Linked DNA regions of Homo sapiens: region 1 is linked to region 2. The links come from fine-mapping of genetic effects on gene expression. A gene starts in region 2. The other region holds a variant in brackets. All regions are shown on one strand. Distances are from middle to middle.

The links. PIP is the estimated chance that this variant, and not a neighbour inherited with it, causes the effect.
Region 1: its variant is the best candidate, but not a certain one, in a credible set for the expression of FADS2 in testis (GTEx, PIP 0.65).

The regions. Positions count from the first base shown.
Region 1 is chr11:61,851,284-61,862,796 of GRCh38, forward strand. FADS2 (fatty acid desaturase 2) reads left to right here. Exons shown (of 12, transcript NM_004265.4): 6 at 5,728-5,788; 7 at 6,171-6,247. Among named protein-coding and RNA genes, the nearest start is that of MIR6746, 21 kb to the right of the region's middle. RefSeq lists enhancers at 5,710-6,211, 9,965-10,465, 10,466-10,966. The variant G/A (reference allele first, on the strand shown) is at 5,038.
Region 2 is chr11:61,823,052-61,832,315 of GRCh38, forward strand. It overlaps FADS2 (fatty acid desaturase 2), which reads left to right and starts at 5,249. Exons shown (of 12, transcript NM_004265.4): 1 at 5,249-5,546. The coding sequence starts at 5,340. It overlaps LOC124902680 (a long non-coding RNA gene), which reads left to right. Exons shown (of 2, transcript XR_007062696.1): 2 at 1-921. RefSeq lists enhancers at 3,588-4,265, 4,266-4,943 and silencers at 4,535-4,974, 5,095-5,194, 5,215-5,314.

The DNA of each region.
Region 1 (11,513 bases), 29 kb after region 2:
AAGAAGGCGTCTTTCTTGTGCGTGGTGGCCAGAGAAGCCTCTCCTTTCCCGACATCTTCTCACCCCCGACACTTCTGGAACGCTGGCTTTGGGGCAGGAGATAGGGGTGGGAGGCTGTGAGGATCTGGTTGTTCAGTTACCAGCGGCGTTTGGAAGTCCCCAGCCAGTGCCGCGGTGTTCTGTGGAAATCCCCGCTCTCACACTCATGGGGAAAGGATTGGTGCTTCCTGGGTTCCTGGTGTTTTGACCTGTGCTCTGGCTCTCGCAGGACCCGGCCGCCCTGGAAGGAACCCTGGTCTCTTGACTGAAGTGACAGTGGGTCTGATGGGACTTGTCACATGCCAGTCCCACACACCACAGCAGGGCCAGGTGGGGCGGCCAGGTCCCAGGGCCTCAAGCCACCATCCCAGTCTCCAGAGCAAGGATGCCGGCCAGGGCTTCTATCTCTGGGGACAGATAAGCAAAGCAGCCCTGCCAAGCGGCTCCCAGCACGTGGAACTGTGAATAGCGCGGGCTCCGCAGTAAAGCCCTTTTCCTCGTTTTCTGCATTTTGGTCTTATTGATGCTGTCCAGGAGGATTCTTTTTGTCATATGTAGCAAAGTATATTCACTTTACCCAGAGATTCATTTCTTGTGTGCTTAGAAAGTTCTTCATACATATTATTTTCAGTTCTTTAAGGTTTTGTGTTTCAATCTTTAACTTCTGCCAAATGGGATATGGGTAGGATGATGTTCGGCCTTCACTTTTCTCCAGAGTCGGCCAGTTTTCCCGGCACCCCCATGAGGTGGCATTGCTTCTTCATATGAGGCAGTGAGTGCTCCTGAGCCCGGGCTTGGCCTGGGCTGGGCTGTCTGTCCTCTCCCAGGCCACCGTCTGGATGACTTGGGGGCCACACTCACACTCATTCATCCTTGGCACTTAACTCATTGGAAGCTCGTAGTGGGGTGCCTTTCCCCTTCTCTTTCTCTCTCTTTTTGTTTTTGTTTTTGTTTTTGAGACAAGGTCATGCTCTGTCACCTTGGCTAGAGCGTAGTGGCGCAATCTCGGTTCACTGCAGCCTCAACCTCCTGGGCTCAAGCCATCGTTCTGCCTCAGCCTCCCGAGTAGCTGGGACTACAGGCACCCGCCACCATGCCCGGCTAATTCTTGTATTTTTAGTAGAGATGGGGTTTCACCATGTTGGCCAGGCTGGTCTCGAACTCCTGACCTCAAGTGATCCGCCTACCTCAGCTTCCCAAAGTGCTGGGATTACAGGCATGAGCCACTGTGCCCGGCCAAGGTCTGTACTTCTTTATATGTCTCATGGATGTTTCTTTTAAAACGCAATCCTTATATGTTTTATATTTTGTCATTATGATTGGAGGTTCTCCAGTACTCGGGAAAGCAGTGGATATTGGGGTAGTTATCTTAATTTTCTTTTTTTTCTAAATTTTTGTTTGCATGGCCTTCCAATGAATGGGATAGTTATCTTTTGTCCCGCTAGTGTCCACTTACGTCTCTTCGTAATTCTAGTTGTGTTTCGGTTGATTCTTTTGAGTTTCCTGGGTAGATGATCATATCCTAGAAAATAATGAAAACGTAGTCTCTCGGCCCAGCGTGGTGGCTCACATCTGTAATCCCAGCACTTTGGGAGGCCGAGGCTGGCGGATCACGAGGTCAGGAGATCGAGACCATCTTGGCTAACACAATGAAACCACCGTCTCTACTAAAAATACAAAAAATTAGCTGGGCATGGTGGCACACGCCTGTAGTCTCGGCTACTCTGGAGGCTGAGGCAAGAGAATCGCTTGAACCTGGGAGGCGGAGGTTGCAGTGAGCTGAGATAGCACCACTGCACTCCAGCCTGGGCGACAGAGTGAGACTCCGTCTCAAAACAACAACAACAACAACAACAACAAAACAAAACAAAACAAACAGAAAAAAAGTGTAGTCACTCTTTCTTTCTTCTCTTTCTTTCTTTCTCTCTCTCTTTCTTTCTCTCCCTCCCTCCCTTCCCTCCCTCCCTCCCTTCCTTCCTTCCTTCCTTCCTTCCTTCCTTCCTTCCTTCCTTTCCTTCTTTCTTTCTAATCTGGATGTTGAAGTAGTCTCTTTCTTTCTAATAGCTCCACTCTGTTTTCTGCTTTGGGTTTTATTGCATTGACGGGAAATTTCAGAGCTGAGTTTAATAGCGGTGATATTGGCAGCAGCCTTGTTTTGTTCTTCTTTTGCCATATCCCCGTTTTCTGAGGGGGCTGGTGAGACCATTATCCCGGTAGCAGTGTAAAGGGGCCTCAGAAGCCGTGCGGTGCCTGAGATCCTCCTCCTCCTCCCATCCGGGAAACCACCTCTGCTGCTCTGACTGTCTGAAGCTAACCTCCTGGGCTTCCTGCTTGAGGCAGACCTTCATGAACAGGCTTAAGCCACCCATCCCGCCTTGGGACACACATGCCGCCCTCTCGGGGACCTTGGACTGGGACCTTGCCATTCTGCTCCTGCTGGGGAGGTCGTGCCGCCTGTTTCTCTCTGTGTGTGAGTTTGCAGGTTCCCAGAGGCAGAGACTGGGCTTTGCGACAGCTCCCCTCCCCCAACCCTCGATGGACAAGGAGGGCCCTTGTCATTCCTCAGACATTTTGTTCCAAAGCTGAAAGGTCCCCTCCACATGGCCCGGCATCCCCCAGGCCCTCATCCAAGCCTGGCCTTGAGGTGCATGGAGAGGCCGAGGACAGGAGAGTCAGCCCCGCCGCCAGGGCTGGCTGCACTCCCTCCCTTGCCCCTGGCCTGCGTCTCTGCCTGTCAACCGCAGCCTGGGAAGGCACTGTTGCTGATCAGGGGGAGGTCCATGTGTGCCACCCACACCCTTGGCCGCAGCCCAGCCAGGTGAAAGTCATGTGTCTTCCTTGCCTCTTGGGCTTTCTCTGTGTGTGTGACGGGGACTCCTCTGGAGGAGGAGATGTGTGGGGTCCTCCACTCCCCACACTTGGGGCTCTGAGCCCCCAGTTGGGAAGAAGCCTGACTCTTGTTGAGTGAGTCTGTGGACCGGGCACTGTGATGGGCAGTGTGCGTGCACAACGTCACTTAATCCTTGCTTAACCCGTGAGGCGGGAGCTGTCATCGACCCATTTCATGGATGGAACAGCTAAGGCCAAGAGACATGAAGTGACTTGTTCAAGGTAACAGCAAGGAAAAGGCAACACCACTGTCCGAACCCAAACCATCTGGCTGCAAACCACAGCTTCGGAGTCCTGGGGGCCCTTGTGAAATATGTTTGTTGGGTAGCCCCAGCTTTCTGATCAATTAAACAGCCAGGCACTCACCCCCCTAGCTTGCTACATTCTAAAATACCTCTCCCTCCCTTCCCTGGTCCCATGACTTAAACGGCAAAGCTCTGGCAAAGAACTGAGCGTGGGAAAGATGAGAGCAGAGAGTTAGCCACAGGGCAGGGCTTCGTATCCCAAACCCACAGTTGTACTTTCTGGTTTGGGAGGGGAGTATTGGCCATCCCCCAGCAGAGCCGCTGCAGCTGAGGCCATCGAGATGGGCACAGATGTGTAGTGGTATGTCACCATACGCATGTACATACACGTGCGTGACTGTGATGAGCATTTTGCTCACCGTCCCACAGAGGCCCACTCTGAGGCCTGCTGCTGCCTGGCAAGCAGGACCCCCTGGCTCCCGAGGGTCATTCTGGGGCATTGAAGGGACGCACACTAAAGCCAGCAGTGCTTACCAGCAGAGGCAGCCCCTGTAACCTGTGTTGTCCACCCACAGGCCACCATCACCCATGAGAACAGGGTGCCTACTGTGCACATGCAGCTCCAAACAGACTCCCCAGGTGCCTCCCAGGCCCCCACAACAGCGTGGCCAGCCCTCAGTCCCTCCATAGGATGCCCTGGCCCCTGCTGACCTGCCTGGGTTGCCCTCTGTGCTCACTTCCGAGTACAGCCGGCCCAGCCCGAGAGGGATGGGATGCTCTGTGGGACAGAGATGCGGTGGGGAGGAGCTCTTGAGCAGAGCTGGAGACACTGCATGCCAAGGCTGGGGCTATGAGCCTGCTCCCTGGCCTCTGGGAGAAGCTTAGAGCAGGACTCAGGGGCCTGTTCTGTGGGCCACTGCAGGCCCCGAGACTGGCCACCTCGAGAGCAACGTCTGCAGTGCTGGCTCCTCCAGCAACTCCGTCCACTGGAGACTCATGAAAGGCTCCTGTGAGGCCTCCCTGGCTCGGACCTCTCCATGGCCGGCCTCAGCCCTGGCCTTAATAATAGTCTTCCTGCAAGTGGCCGTCCTTTCTGGGAATGAGTGAGATCCTTGCCAAGGCTCAGGAGGCCACACAGAACAAAGGGACTGTTTCTGGGGGTTCTTCAGCTGGTTGTGCCGTGACCATGGCCATTGGCGCCAAGATGCAAGCCTTGGGGACAGGGTGGACCTGGTTCCCACCCACAGCCTCTTCCCTCAGGAATCCATGCTCTCCCTGTGATTTGGACAATCATTTTACTCACCTGGATGAGAGGGGCACTGGCCTAGGCATCATCCAAGGTCCCTTCCCTCTGTAACTCACTTTGACCTCCTGACTGCAATAAGTATGACTGGACACTATAGGAGGAGGCATCTCTGGCCTTCGGATCCAGGGGTATAGGGAGGGTGACGGGCAGTGTCCTGGGGTCAGCACTTGGCATTATGCCCATGTTCTCATTGGCTCCTCTTACCAACCACTGATTCAAATGCCAGACAAGGCTCAGCAAGGCTAAGCGACTCACATAGTCTCAGCACTGGTGAGAGGCAGAGTCGGCTCAAGCGCATCTGCTGGCTGCAAGCCCAGCCTCCCCACACTGCAAGGGAGAGGAGCAGGTGTCACTCAGTGAGCGGCATCTTTTGGTCTCAGTCCTGGAAGTGCAGGGTGGGCTGGTCCCTAGGGGCTGGACCATGGAATTAAGGGCTCCAGGGATCCCCTGGGGCCGTGGTTCCTATGCCTGGCATTGGACAATGACGATGCCCAGGACCCAGCCCAGCCCTCCTCCATTAGAGCCTCTGGGCATCAGGCTGCCCAAGGTGCAGGCTCT[G/A]ATGGGGAAGAAACCGGTGCCGTCATGGGGACCTCAGGTAGCCAGATGTGGCCTGAGGAGTCTGTGCTGTGGCCTCCTCTGTCCTCAAGGTTAGGCTCCAGCTGGGGAGGAGTGATTCACTCTTGTAAATTACAGGGAGGCTCCAGGGAGGCAGATGCTCCCAGCCTGATGACTGGCAGCAATTCTGGGGCCCTTACCTAGGTTCTCCCTGCCACTGCGGGCTCCGGGAGCTCTCCATGGTGACCTAGGAACTCCCCTGGGTGCTTATGCTCCGCCGAGAGTTGCTCTGTTGCACATTCATTCAACAAACATTTGTTTAGTGCCTGTCACATGGGCTCAGAGTCAGCTTTTTGGGTTCTGATCCCAGTCAGGGCCACTTCCTGTGGCCTTGGGCCATGGCTTAACGCTGAGCCTCAGCCTCAGAAGTGCCGGCCTTGTAGAGGATCGATGCCATCGGGCCAGTGCTCGGCTAGGGCTGAGGAAGCGTTGGCCGCTGCTGGCTGTAGCATGGGGAGCCCAGAGGGCTGGAGGGGCCCCAGGCTTGGTGGGCCCAGGGTGCAGATTGACAGGAAAGGGACAGTGGTGTGCCCTGAGCAGATAGAAGGGATGGTGGCTGCAGGATGGGTTGGGGAACATGGGAGGCTGGGAGCTGAGGCTACTGGGTGCTCATGATCTCTCCTCTCTCCTCAGTACGGCAAGAAGAAGCTGAAATACCTGCCCTACAATCACCAGCACGAATACTTCTTCCTGAGTGAGTGCTCGGCGCCCCGAAATCACTCTGGGACCCTCCCCTCCCCCCAGAGTGGCGTGTCTCTCCCTCCTACCTGACATCTTTTTCAGATCCAGAAAGTGACACTAAACTTGTTAGAAGCGGGGGCCACAGCAGCCTTGCTGTGCAGACCCCTCAGCCTGTGTTACAGGCCTGATGGGGACACAGAGGCTCAGAGAGTCCCAGGGGTGACACACGTCCTCAAGGGCTCCCAGCCTTCTCTGCAGGCCCCGGGGTCCCTGGCTGCTTCTGCCCACGTCTGCAGGGCTGGCCCCTGCACTCAGTGCTGGGCCTGGGTTCCCCTGACCTTCCGGCACAGGCAGGGTGGAATGGATGCCTCTAAGCGCCTGTCTCTCTCCTGCAGTTGGGCCGCCGCTGCTCATCCCCATGTATTTCCAGTACCAGATCATCATGACCATGATCGTCCATAAGAACTGGGTGGTGAGTTGGGGACACAGCTGGCTTGGCATGGGGAGGAGGGTGACTGGGACAGGGGGACCCGGGGGTCCTACGCTGCCTCCTCGTGTGCCCCAGTGGAGCCTGTGGGGCCCCAGGCATCTCCTCCCTGGGGTAGCTGCCTCTCAGGAAAGGACTCCCTCTGGGGCCACCAGGACCTAGTCCTAAAGATCTCTACTCTCCCTCAGACATAGGGAGTCCACTGGGGCAGCCCCTGCTTTTGCAGAGCCCCCGAGAAAGTTCTCAAAGGCAGCAGGATGAGAGGCAAGTGTGGCCATCTCCCTTCCCCGCTCCCTGTGGGCCCTGAGTCCCATGAACTGGGTTGCCCCACACCCTGGTTTGAAGTTGGAGCAGCTGGGCGTTGGCTGAGATGACAGGTGTGGTCGTTTGCGAAGACCGTATGACAAAGCACCACGAACTGAGTGGCATAAGCAGCAGCGATGTGTTTTCTCCCGGTTCTGGAGACCGGAAGTCCAAAACTGAGGTGTTAGCAGGGTGGATTCCTTAGGGCTCTGGAAGGCTCTGTTCTGGGCCTCTCATCGGCTGGTTGATGGCTTTCGTCCTCCCTCTCGGTACATCATCTCTCTGCATATTTGTATCTGTATCTGTGTCCAAATATCCCTCTTTAAAAAAATTATTTTGTTTATTTGTTTATTTATTGAGACAGAGTCACATAGGCTGGAGTGCAGTGGTGTGATCTCGACTCAACTGCAACCTCTACCTCCTGGGTGCAAGCAATTCTTGTGACTCAGCCTCCCAAGTACCTGGGATTACAGGCACCGGCCACCATGCCCAGCTAATTTTTGTATTTTTAGTAGAGATGGGGTTTTTCCATGTTGGCGAGGCTGGTCTCGAACTCCTGGCCTCAAGTGATCTGCCCGCCTCAGCCTCACAAAGTGCTGAGATTACAGGCATGAGCCACCACGCCTGGCCTATTTTTTAATTTTCTTTTTTTCTTCACCAAAAGTGGATTCTTGAAAATTTTTCCTTTTTTTTAAAATAGGGACATTGGTCATATTGCATTAGGGCCCATTGTAATTACGTCATCTTTTTTTTTTGAGATGGTGTTTCGCTCTGTCGCCCAGGCTGGAGTGCAGTGGTGCGATCTCGGCTCACTGCAACCTCCGCCTCCTGGGTTCAAGCGATTCTCCTGCCTCAACCTCCTGAGTAGCTGGGAGTACAGGCGCCGGCCACCATGCCTGGCTAATTTTTGTATTTTTAGTAGTGATGGGGTTTCACCATGTTGGCCAGGCTGGTCTCGAACTCTTGACTCGTGATCCACCCGCCTTGGCCTCCCAAAGTGCTGGGATTACAGGCGTGAGCCACTGCACCCGGCAGATAAATTGTTTATCTGAAAATTATCAAAGACTAAATTGTCACTTTCTGAAATGCTTGCTTAAAATCCAGTCTTTCTCAGCAGTCTATTTGTCCCTCATGCTCCAACCAATAGCCATGGGGAAGTTTTTCCTCTCTTAACCAAATGTGGACTTGTTTATTGATTACTGTTTTTTGTTTGTTTGTTTGTTTTTGAGGTGGAGTTTCGCTCTTGTTGCCCAGGCTGGAGTACAATGGCGTGATCTCGGCTCACCGAAACCTCTGCCTCCTGGGTTCGAGTAATTCTCCTGCCTCAGCCTCCGAAGTAGCTGGGATTACAGGCATGCGCCACCATGCCCAGCTAATTTTGTATTTTTAGCAGAGACAGGGTTTCACCATGTTGGTCAGGCTGGTCTCAAACTCCCAACCTGAGGTGATCTGCCCACCTCAGCCTCCCAAAGTGCTGGGATTACAGGCGTGAGCCACCGCGCCCGGCCTGTTGATTACTGTTTTATCGCTTGCTAACTGAAGTTGTCCTTTTCACCCTGACTGTGAATTTAAGAGCAGCCAAGTCAAATTTTATCTCCAAGTCTTGGACCCATATATCCAATCTAACTCCATTTGGAGGTGTCCCAGCCATTGCAAATCCAACATATTCAATGTAAGTCCTCTCCTCTTCTCCCACAACCTAATCCTGATGGTCTCCATGTTAATGAATGGCTCCATCATCCACCCAGTGGCTCAAGTTAGAGACTAGCACCATTATGTTTTTTCCCTCCTTATACATGTTACACCCTCTCCTTGCCTCTAGCATCCAATCCCGTTCTAACTCATAAGTGGCCTATTGCCGGGCGCAGTCACTCATGCTTGTTATCCCAGCACTTTGAGAGGCCGAGGCGGGCAGATCATGAGGTCAGGAGTTCGAGACCAGCCTGGCCAGCATGGTGAAACCCCGTCTCTACTAAAAATACAAAAAATTAGCCTGGCATGGTGGTGTGCACCTGTAGTCCCAGCTACTCAGGAGGCTGAGGCAGGAGAATTGCTTGAACCCGGGAGGCGGAGCTTGCAGTGAGCAACTTCTTTTTTTTGTTTGTTTTTGACTGTGCTTGTTCCCTAAGGAACAAAGTATTAAACAGGAAAAGAAATCACCCTATGTTCCTAAAAGGGGATGGCAGAGTGGGGACAATGTGATGAGCCCATGGGGCTTTCAGAGCCAGGAGCGCACCTATGACCTGGGGCACTGGTTCTCAGGGGAGCTGTTCTGCCCTTTGGCAGTATCCGGAGACACTTTTAATTGTCACAACTTCAGGAGAGGAGGGTGCTACTGGCATCTGGTGGGCGTCTAGCCAGGATGGTGCTTAGCACCCTGCCATGCCCTGGAGAACCGCCCATGACAACAAGCAGCCTGTCCCAGGTGCCAATAGTGTGGAGGTTGGGGGACCCTGGCTTAGAGGAAAGAGGTGACAAACCCTAAGATCTTTGAAGGAGGCTTCCCGGGGAGATTTACATGCTCTGGCAAGGTTCCCTGTTCCCGGGGCCACGTCCTGGATCCTGAGATGCTCCCACGCTTCACCCTCCTGGAATTTTGCTGTATCTGACACCACTGGCCACTCCCTCTTGCAGTTCTTCCTGTTGGCTTCCAGGTCCCCACCTCTGCTGGCTTCTTCCCAACCCCCTCGCTCCGCCTCTTTGGCTGCTTCTGATCTCTTGGGCTCTCTGCCCCTGAAACCAGCGATCTCTGTGTATGTGTTGCTCTCTACACTCAAAAGAAGTCCAGGCCAGGCATGGTGGCTCACGCCTGTGATCTCAGCACTTTGGGAGGCTGAGGTGGGAGGGATCACCTGAAGCCAGGAGTTTTGAGACCAGCCTGAGCAACATGGGCGAAACCCTGTCTCTACAAAAAGCTGGGCGTGGTGATGCGCGCCTGTAATCTACCTACTTTGGAGGCTGAGGTAGGAGGATGGCTTGAGCCCAGGAGTTTGAGGCTGCAGTGAGCTGTGATCACACCACTGCACTCAAGCCTGGGCAACAGAGTGAGACCCTGTCTCTTAAAAATAAAAGTTGGGCCAGGGCAATGGTTCACACCTGTAATCCTAGTACTTTGGGAGGCCAAGGCTGGAGGATCACTTGAGCACAGGCATTCGAGACCAGCCTGGGCAAGTAAGTGAGACCCCCCCATCTCTATAAAAACTTAAAAAAAATTATCCAGGTAAGGCCAGACACAGTGGCTCATGCCTGTAATACCAGCACTTTGGGAGCCTGAGGCAGGCGGATCACAAGGTCAGGAGATCGAGACCATCCTGGCGAACACGGTGAAACCCCATCTCCACTAAAAATACAAAAAATTATCCGGGCGTGGTGGCGGGCACCTGTAGACCCAGCTACTTGGGAGGCTGAGGCAGGAGAATGGTATGAACCCAGGAGGTGGAGCTTGCAGTGAGCCAAGATCACACCACTGCACTCTAGCCTGGGCGACAGAGCGAGACTCCCTCTCAAAAAAAAAAAAAAAAAACAGAAATTAGCTACTCGGGAGGCTGAGGTAGAAGTATGGCTTGAGCCTGGGACAGAGTCATGATCACACCATTGCACTCCAGCCTGGGCAATAAAGCAAGATCCCATCTCCAAAAAAAAATAATCCGTAACCCCATCCTCATTTTGTTTCCATATATGTGTAGATACACTGCACACTATTGCACCACACACACAGAATAGAAGGAATGTGATGGAAAGTGGGAGCAGAACTGGCTACATCTGCCTCCCTCCTCACCTTGAAGGCCACCTTATTGGAACGTGAGGTCCTGCCCTCGGCCAATGTTGGCCCCAAGGCCATCTCCAGCCTCTCCTGAGCGCTCCCTTCCTCCTTTCCTGTTCAGCTGCTGGCACCCGACCCCTGATCACCTAGGACCAGCCTAGATTCCCCACAGCCAAGCAGGCACAAATGCAGCCACCGTTGCCTCTGACAGTTCTGGAATCTGTCACCTCCTTGTCAGTGCCGTGGGTTCTGGTTTAGGCCTCTGTCATTTCATGTCTGAGCCGCTGGAATAACTTCCTAGTCTCCCCCTCTCCAGTGGGTGGGGATCTATTTTAAGACACAAATGTGACCTTGTTCTTCAGTCGTTTGAAGTGAGACAGGGCAGTCCCTTGGCCTCACCTTCCACCTCGGACACCTGTGCTGAGCCTGTGGCATGTCACCATACCTAAACTCATGGCAGGATGAGCGCCCTGGCAGTGGGAACAGGCCATGCAGAGGCCCCGGGGAGGGAGTAAGCTAGGTCAGGGGGCTGAGTAAAGACAGGTTCTTAACCCCATGAGGCTCCGTGGGTGACTGGGTGGGATGGGGGCTTTAGCAGGGGAGAGTTGGGACCTGCTTGGAGCGAAGGCCACTCTGGTTGCCATGGCCACGAGGACAAGCAGGAGACTGTGGGAAGCTGATGCTGTGGTCCAGTTGAGACAAGACTTGGGTGGCAGAGAGACAGTGGACAGGGTGGAGCCGTGAAGTCACCCTCCCAGTACATGAGAGAAGACGTCCAAGCCCAGTCCCTGACACCAGTCCAGCCAGAGGCAGGGAGGAGAGCAGAGTGGAGGGACACAGGATGACAGTGGGGCGTGGGGAGGCCAGCCTCTGCTGTGAGAGCTCTGAGATAGGGACGATGGTACCTCTGACCTTCCCTACCCCTCCAAGCCCTCTGTCCTGCTGGAAGGAGATGCCAGGAGGAGACCCAGGTGCTGAGGAGGAGGGACAGGACTGGGGGACGGTTGGGGACCTGGCCCCGGGTTGGGGGCGCACCTTCAGAATCGCCCTTGCCCCACGAGAGGGCTGCTGACCCCCACCCCTACCCCATGGCTGCCCCTCAGCAGGAGGGTCCGTTTCTCTCCCGAAAAACAGGGCACAGTCACTTCCTGATGCTAAAACACTCAGCATTTCCCTAGAAACAAA
Region 2 (9,264 bases):
GCATTCCTTAGTTTTACTGCACTTCTTATCACCAGAACAGGAAAGGAATGGTGTCCTACAGCTCCTTGACCAAGTACCTCTCCACCAATACTATGAGCACTAAAGATGCAGCAACGAAGCACTAGACTCTGGGATGTGAAGATCTCAAATTCTATTCTCTGTGCACTTCAGAGTTGGAGAAGGATCCATCAAGTTTCAGTAGAATGTACCAAGGAAGGGAGGCAATGTGGTAGAATGGAAAGAATAAGGATTGTAGTTGAGACACCTGCAACCTGGACCTGCTAGTCCACCTACTGCTGTGTAATCTTGGACATTATGTCCACCTCTATGGGTTTCGGATCCCTTATCTGTAAAGTGAAGAGATTGTCCAGATGCTTTCCAGCACTAGCAATCTGTGCTTTAAAGTTTTACCTAACATACCATACCTTTTATCAATGTCCACCTAGAGATAATAACCCAGCTTATTTTATTTGAGTTTTGAGACAGGGTCTTGCTCTGTCTTGCACTCCAGCTGGAGTGCAGTGGCACGATCATGGATCACTGAAGTCTCCACCTCTGCGGTTCAAGCATTCCTCCCACCTCAGCCTCCCGAGTAGCTGGGACTATAGGCATGCACCACCACATCCAACTAATTTTTTATATTTTTGTACAGACAGGGTCTCACTGTGTTGCCCAGGCTGGTCTCAAACTCCTGGGCTCAAGTGATCCTCCCACCTTGGCCTCCCAAAGTGTTGGGATTACAGGTGTGAGCCACCACGCCTGGCCTAACCCAGTTTCTTAGATAGGGTCCCCAGCCTGTCATTTAAGGCATCTAAATTTGATGCACTTACTAAGTTGATGCCATTTTTGTTGTTGAAAATTATTCATTTTTTAAAAATAGTTATGACTTTCACCACATATTAATAAATCATTATCTAGTGAGCTTGGTTAAAGTTTGACCTCACCAATATTGCTAGTTAAGAAAATACATGTATGGCACTTTCACATACCTTGTGTCCTTTGAGCCTCGTTATTAAAATAGATGAGATAGGTTAGAAATCACTATCTCCGCTGGGTGCGGTGGCTTATGCCTGTAATCCCAGCACTTTGGGAGGCCGAGGTGGGCAGATCACCTGAGGTCGGGAGTTCGAGACCAACCTCACCAACATGGAGAAACCCTGTCTCTACTAAAAATACAAAATTAGCTGGGTGTGGTGGCACATGCCATGTAATCCCAGCTACTCGGGAGGCTGAGGCAGGAGAATCGCTTGAACCCGGGAGGCAGAGGTTGCAGTGAGCCAAGATTGCACCACTGCACTCCAGCCTGGGGGATAGAGTGAGACTCCATCTTGGGGGAAAAAAAAAGAGAGAGAGAGAGAGAGAGAGAGAGAGAGAGAGAGAGAGGGAGGGAGGGAGGGAGGGAGGGAGGGAGAGAGAGAGAGAGAGAGAGAGAGAGAGAGAAAGAAAGAAAGGAAAGAAAGAAAGAAAGAAAGAAAGAAAAATCACTGTCTCCTTTTTATCATGAGGAAACTGAAGGTCAGAGACAGAGGTCTAACATCACATGGTAGGTATGGGAAAGGAATACTGTAGCGGTCTGTAATTGCTTTTGGTTTGTGACTTCCCACAAAAAGGAACAGACCCTGTTCCCCAAAGCCCAGGTCTGCTGCTTGGCTTATGACCTACACCTAATAGAGTAACTCAGCCGTCTGATAACAGTGGCCCAATGGTTAGCATCTGATGCAGAGCCCATTAAACTGGAATTAATCCTTGGGAGCAGGGAATGGGGGAGAATTATTTCTGCTAGCGTAGCTTAGCAAATACAGCCATATTTTTTTGTCACATGGAGGAGACCCTTCTGCAGTAAGAGAGAATCAGGTGTTGGCCGGGTGCAGTGGCTCACGCCTGTAATCCCAGCACTTTGGGAGGCTGAGGTGGGCAGATCACGAGGTCAGAAGATCGAGACCATCATGGCCAACATGGTGAAACCCCATCTCTACTAAAAATACAAAAATTATCTGGGCATGGTGCCACCCACCACGGCCTCCTAAAGTGCTGGGATTATAGGCATAAGCCACTGCTCCCAGCCTAGGTGTTTCAAACATAACGTTAAAATAGAATTTTTAATTTTTCACCCCTGTACTAACTCTGTTCCCTCATCTTGGTAAATGGTCCCATTATCTATTCATTTGCTCAACTCAAATGCTAGAATCAGACTTATTTCTCTTATTCCTTCATCTCTACCATCACCCCTGCCCCTGTACCTCCAACTAATGCGGTCTTGATTCTACCTCCAAAGGATATTCTAGGCTGGGCAGGGTGGCTCACGCCTGTAATCCCAGCACTCTGGGAGGCTGAGGTGGGCAGATCACCTGAGGTCAGGAGTTTGAGACCAGCCTGGCCAACATGGTGAAACCCTGTCTCTACTAAAAATATAAAAATTAGCCGGGCATGGTGGCGGGTGCTTGTAATCCCAGCTACTCAGGAGGCTGAGGCAGTAGAACCATTTGAACCCATGAGGTGGAGGTTGCAGTGAGCTGAGATCGCACCACTGCACTCCAGCCTGGGCGACAGAGTGAGACCCTGTCTCAAAAAAAAAAAAAAAAGAAAGAAAAAGCCCTTTGGGAGGCCGAGGCAGGTGGATCACGAGGTCAGGAGATCGAGACCATCCTGGCTAACACGGTGAAACCCCGTCTCTACTAAAAATACAAAAAAATTAGCCGGGTGTGGTGGCAGGCGCCTGTAGTCCCAGCTACTCGGGAGGCTGAGGCAGGAGAATGGCGTGAACCTGGGAGGTGGAGCTTGCAGTGAGTAGAGATCGCACCACTGCACTCTAGCCTGGGCAACAGAGTGAGACTGCATCTCAAAAAAAAATTAGAGGGCAGGGAGGCACATGGCAGTGTCCAGTGTGGGGTCAGCCCCCTAAAGTTCTCTCTTAATTCAGGCCTCCCCTCCCCTCTCCTCGAGCACTGCCCTCATCTTTGAACTCATCACTGTTCCCCAGTTTCTCCCGTACATCCCAGTCCAGCCCCAGCCTCTGGAGTTATCTTTCTACACCATGGATCTGATCACAGTACACCTGCTTTACGGATGTCCAAGCCTCCTCCATGGTAAAGTCCTCCCTTCCTACCCCTTACTGAGGCTGCTGGGGCTTTTCTCAATTTGAGCCCCATCTACCGCCGGCCTCATTGGAGCCATTCTTTGAACTTCATTCATTCATTTGTGTCTTCAACACATGTTTTTATGTTTTTTCAGGACCTACCCTGGCTGGTACTGTGCTGGGAGCCGCTGGGGACCCCAGGCCCTGGCCGGTCCACGCTTCTCAGCCACCCTACACAGGCCACCCATACGTGCTCCCTTTTAGGGCCTGAACCTTCAAAGCCTCTGTGAGATACTCCCTGGTTCTGCCTTTCAGCTATCACTCCCTGCTCCGAGCTCCACACCCTTTACAAATGTTCATTAAAGTTATCTATATGGTATGTTAATCCATTTCTGAGAAAATAATTTTCTTGGTTCCATTTCCGTCAACGTTTGACAGTCCTCAAGGCCACCATACTCTCTGGAGGTCTTGCTTCATCCTCTTATTTTGTACAGAAGGCTTTTGTTTGGGATGTCTGCTCACACTCAAAGACAGAGAGGCCTTACTGTCTTTATGTCTGCAGTCTGTGGAGTGAATGAAGGATGCTCAGGGCTGACACCAGCATGAAATGTGATGGGAGAGGTTGGGGACTGTGTGAATGTGAGGAAAGGGAGCCCATCTGCCCCCCCAAGTACAACCCCACCAGTTGGGCAGAGTGATCCCCCCACCACCCCTGCATTGCTGTGAAATTTAGATTGGGCAGGGCCCGTTTGACCATCTCTCTCAATCTCAGGCTCTCCATTTTCAAGTGAGATGTAATAATATGCGTCCTGTTTACCTCTCAGCCTGTGATGAGAATCTAATGATTAGGGTGTGCTAGCACACAGGCACCTGTAAATCCCATTGAAATCTGAGGGCCCTATAACTCCTCTAGTGATTCCCAAGCCTCGTGCACCCCACCCTCTCTGTTCATCCTTACTTCCCACGTGTCCCGTTAGCCCTCCGGATGCAGTCAGGCCCATTTCCCCCAGGACGCCCGGCACTAAGCCGCCCCATCCAGCTGGGGTCTGAGGGGCCTGTCTCTTGCCCCACGCCTAAAAGACCTAACCCTCCTCCTATCCCTTCGATACGGCAGTCTTTATTTGCTGGAGTCTGCACAACATCACTGCCCAATGATGTGTCTGCTTCCACGATTCCCAAAGAGACTGAGCTTACTGAGACCAGGGCAAGGACCGCGCCAGTTCCTCATCGCCCCCTTCCTCTGCCTTCCCCTCCCTTCCCCCTCACCGCAGCCATGGCGCCCAGACCAAGAAAGCAGAGCAGAGGTTCCGCAATTCTTTTCTAAGATTGTCTGACTAGAGGGTTCAAAGCCCTCTAATCCAAGGCCGGCTTGTGTCTCTAGGGAGGTTGCAGAAAGGCGCCAGAATGTGGATGGCGCGGACAATGTGGGATACTGGAGTCTCGACTGCCGCGCGCCAAGGAAGGGCGTCACCTAGCCAAGCCGGCCCTGGAGTTGAGTGCCCCGCAGCCCGCCGGTCCACCCGCCCGGCCGCTTGCTGGCACCCTGGTGGCCGCGCCGGCTTTGTGTCGGCATCAGGTGCAAACCCCCAGAGCGCCGGGCGTGCGCGCACGCGCCCCGGAGCGCGCGGAGCCCATTCGTTGCCCCCACCGGGATCTCCTCTAGGATCTCCTCCGGCGCCCGGGGCCGGAGAGTGGGGGAGGGAGGAGGTCGGACACGTAGCCTGCCTCGCAGCAGGGCTCGACTCCACGCGGGAGGGCGGGGGAGCCGGGGACCCGCCGCTCCAGCCCGCTGGCCTTCGAAAGATCCTCCTGGGCCAATGGCAGGCGGGGCGACGCGACCGGATTGGTGCAGGCGCTCTGCTGATCGCTGTGGAAACTCGGGCGGCGGGGAACGCGGGAGGATGTGGAACCCGAGGCGGGGGGAGCCGGAGGGGCGGGCAGAGGAGGTGTCGAGGCCCTGAGCTCCCGGGGAGTTTTTACTGGAGGCAAAAGTCCATAGCGGGAGGGCTGAGGGAGGGGCGGAGGAAGGGGACCGCTTGGGGGCACTGGGAAGCCAGGGATCCTCCGCCAGGAAGGCAGGGACACTCCCGAGCGCAGGCGAGAAGGCTGGGGGAGGGGGCGCGGTGGGAGGAGTAGGAGAAGACAAAAGCCGAAAGCGAAGAGGGCCCGGGCTGCACACACCGGCTGGGAGGCAGCCGTCTGTGCAGCGAGCAGCCGGCGCGGGGAGGCCGCAGTGCACGGGGCGTCACAGTCGGCAGGCAGCATGGGGAAGGGAGGGAACCAGGGCGAGGGGGCCGCCGAGCGCGAGGTGTCGGTGCCCACCTTCAGCTGGGAGGAGATTCAGAAGCATAACCTGCGCACCGACAGGTGGCTGGTCATTGACCGCAAGGTTTACAACATCACCAAATGGTCCATCCAGCACCCGGGGGGCCAGCGGGTCATCGGGCACTACGCTGGAGAAGATGCAACGGTAAGGGTCTGGGGGCGCCCCAGCCACCCTTCTCTGCTGCAGGCGGAGTCAGGATCCCTGGCTCCCCGTGGGCCAAACAGACCTCCGGCGCTGAATGGAGCTTGGGACGTCCTGTAGGGAAGGAAAGTGCATCTATTGCACTCGTACCCCCTCCCCAATCCTCCTCCTCCTCTGGGCCGACTGGGGTGGAGACCGGATCTGGGACCCGGGGAGGCGGCGCTGCGGTGAAAGTCCCAGCGGTGGAGAACAGGGCAAGCATCTACCGCGCGCGCCGGGACCCACGCGTCCTCCCCTTCCTCGGGGTTTGTCTGGAGGCAGGGACTCCCCAAGAGGGGCGCTCGGGCCAGACGGCTTTGGCGCCCCCAGCGGGGAAGATGGCCGCCCCTGCGCGCCGCTGAAAGGAGCGGGAGCGCAGGCAGCCAGGTGTGGGACTCCGCGCTTGTCCCGCACTCTCCATCCAGACTGGGTGGCGAGAAGGAAAGCTCGTCCCCGGCCGGAGATCGCTCCTGCTGGGACTCTTGTCTAAGAAGTTCCTCAATGGCCACCTGGGAAAAACCGCCCAGCAGCTCGGGTTCCCACGCTCCAGGGATTATCTAGACTCACCCCAAGCTCGAGCCGGCCTTCTTGGGGACCGGCGTCCGGGATTGGTGGAAGGAGAACGGCCTGGGGTTTGCAAAGCCCAGGTCGAGTGAGGCCTTGAGCCGGTGGATTTAGCAGCACTAGACTGGCTTGGCAACAGGTCCGTCTGCACTCGAGGTTACTCTCGGGCGTTCAACTCAATGGCTCTCTCTTTTTAAATCCTGCCAAGAACACCCTTCCCTCATCTTGCACTCCTAAAGGTTGTGGGCCTCTCTGGAGCCATTGCTGCCCACCTTACCCCCACCAAATGCGTGGCTCAGTGATTACCCCGCACCAGCTACCCGCACCGGGGACCCCAGTCTGAAATCCTGGCATTTATTTAAGGATGCAGCTGGTATCCCATGGATTCGAATGGGCCAGAAGGAAAAGAACAGAGGCAAGGAGGGAAGAAAGGGCGGCTTTTGGTGGTGGTAGTGAATTGGATGCAGAGAAAAAAGGTCTGATGGGATACAGAAATTGGGGAAAGTGAATAGGAGAGAGGCAGAAAGGAGGGATGAACTTGACGTAGATCATTCCACCTGGAGGTCTAGGATGCCCAACTGTTGGTGGGCTTTTGCTCTCTAAGCTGTGTAGGCCCGACCCTTAACTTCCCCACCTCTTGCATCTCATGGAGACAGGCCTAGGGGAAGGCCAGACCAGGCCACCATAACCCAAGCTGGACAATGGACAGGTGGTGTGGGCCAGCAGGGCCAGGGCTTATCTAAGATTGGGAAGGTCAGCGATACTGAAATTCCCTACAGCTTTCAGTCCCATCCTGTTTTACTTGCTTGTGGACATTGCTTAAGCCCAGTGGGTTTGTGATGCTATTTAGAACTTAGGTGGGTATGTTTCACATACCTTCAGTGCTATCTCACCTGGACCTTTACGCGGCCCAGTGAGGAGGTTGGGTTAATGTAACTCCTAAGTAAAGGACCTTCTGGATCCTGGCTGGGATCTTTCCACTATATGTTGCTGGACTTGGGCTGGTCTGTTTCTGATTTCATAGGTAAATTGTAGAAGGTTCCTGTCCTGTCCAGGCCCTCACCAAAAAGTTTCCAGAAGGAAAAGTCAAATACGATGAATTTGGTCTGATTATTCCACATTGTTAAACATATTTTCTTATGTGAACGCTTAGTCTGGCAATTGCCTTGACCTTTCTGGTTTAATTACCATATCAGATTGATTTATTTCTTCCTTGTTCTGGATGTTCTCAGTGCTTACCTGACCTTAACACTGAGTTCCCTCCAAAAATCAGTGCTCACATCTCTCCTAACAGAGGACTAGAATGACCTACTCTTCCCTGACCTTTTCTCTGTCTCATAAAAATGTAATAGTCTCGTCATTTCTGGTCCTGCTCCAGCGCTTTCTGTATAACTTTCATGGACTATAAATCTGGTATCTTGGATGTTGGTTGCTTTGTTACTTTCATAAGCTAGGGTGGGAGCCAACCGGGGCTGCAAACAGATCTAGAATTGAAGAAAGATGTCATTACTGGGCTCATCCACTAAGTGTTGTCACTTGACTGAGCCCCATCTCCTCATCTATAAGGTACACCTGTACCTGTTTCAATGAGACTGATTTGTGGCAAAGCACCCAGCAACTGTAACCACTAGATGAATGCAATGGGGTGTTATCAGGCAAACGGGAATAAGAACAAGTATTATGAAACAGCTAGAATGGAAAGTATGCAAAGAGGAATTTGAAGAAAAAATTTAAATCTATGCTAGCTTTATTTGGTGTAGCAACACGTAAAAGCAATCCCTGTCCCCAGAGCTTCCTGTCTTCTAAAATAAGACTTTTGGGGCATGAAATACACGAACTGGGGATACAGATTTGAATGATGGTGATGATGGAGTGAGCAGCTGGGTTCTCTTTGTTTTGTTTTGTTTTTTTAAACTGTCCAGGACCAGGTTGGAAAAAGGCCTTGAGCAGCGTGGGGTGGGTGGGGCATGTGGAAAGGGGACCTAAAGAGAGAAGCAGGAACAGGCTACTGAAATCCAGAGACCCTTGCCTAGGCTGTTGAGCAAGTGGCTTTGCCCCTTGGGGTGATGGTTTGTCCCCCAGAGCATGGGGAGTGACAATTTATGGACCAGGCACAGTCTGGGGAGGGACTGATCAGAAGACAGTTTGGATTCCCTGCAACATTCCCAGGCAATGTTCTGAGCCCATCACAGTGCAGTCATTCCTAACACAAGGCTGGAAACAGGTCGGAAGTCAAGGTAGCCATTCTTGGGACAATCCTCGAAGTCAGGGAAGCCATTCTCGGGACAATCAGGGGCCTCAATAGGGCATTTTCTTTTTTTTGAAGAGCAAAAGATCCAGGTAGTCAAGATCCATCTCCCTAGAAGGATGGGGCAACTGTTACGTGGTCCTTCCACAGAAGCTAAACCCTGACCTTGCCTATAATAATGCAAGTTGCTTGATTTTTGCAACTTACAAAACACATTCATATGTATCACTTCATTTCATACTCGGATCAGCCCCGTAGGCATCTCTCACTGCTCTGAGGTATCAAACCTGGCTTAAGTGGCAGTGCTCAGACTTAAACTCAGAATCTGACCTCAAGTCCTCCCCTCCCAGCTTCCTTCCCTTCCTGTTGCTACCTCTGATCTCTTCCCTTTGGTACTGCGGTGCTTCTCTCGCCTTTTCCTTGCTGTGGGCAAAAGGAACCCTCACCCGCGCCCTAAGAGCGTGTCTGCTCTTTTCACAGCAGTCCCACCACTGCAGAACTGTTCATCTTCAGCGACAATTCATCAAACATTAATTGAGTGTCTCCATGGCTCTGAGCTGGGCCCAGACACAGAGATGAATTATTCACAGACAGAGACCTGAAGCTGTGGGATGTGCTCCCCCTGCTCTCTCTCAAGCTGGGGCTTGGATCTGGACCCTCTGCCTCTAGACATCAGCCCCCTACCCCTAGCCCTTGTCTCAGCAACTGTTCCTGCCCGGTCTGCATTGGTGACCTCTTAGAATCAAGGGAAGGTGAGAAGAGACCAGAGGTTTGTTCCACCTTTCAACCTGCTCCTATGTTATTCTTGTGAAAACGCAACAGATCGAAAGTGGAACTCTGGCCTCCTTTGCACGGGGCAGGAGGGTTGTA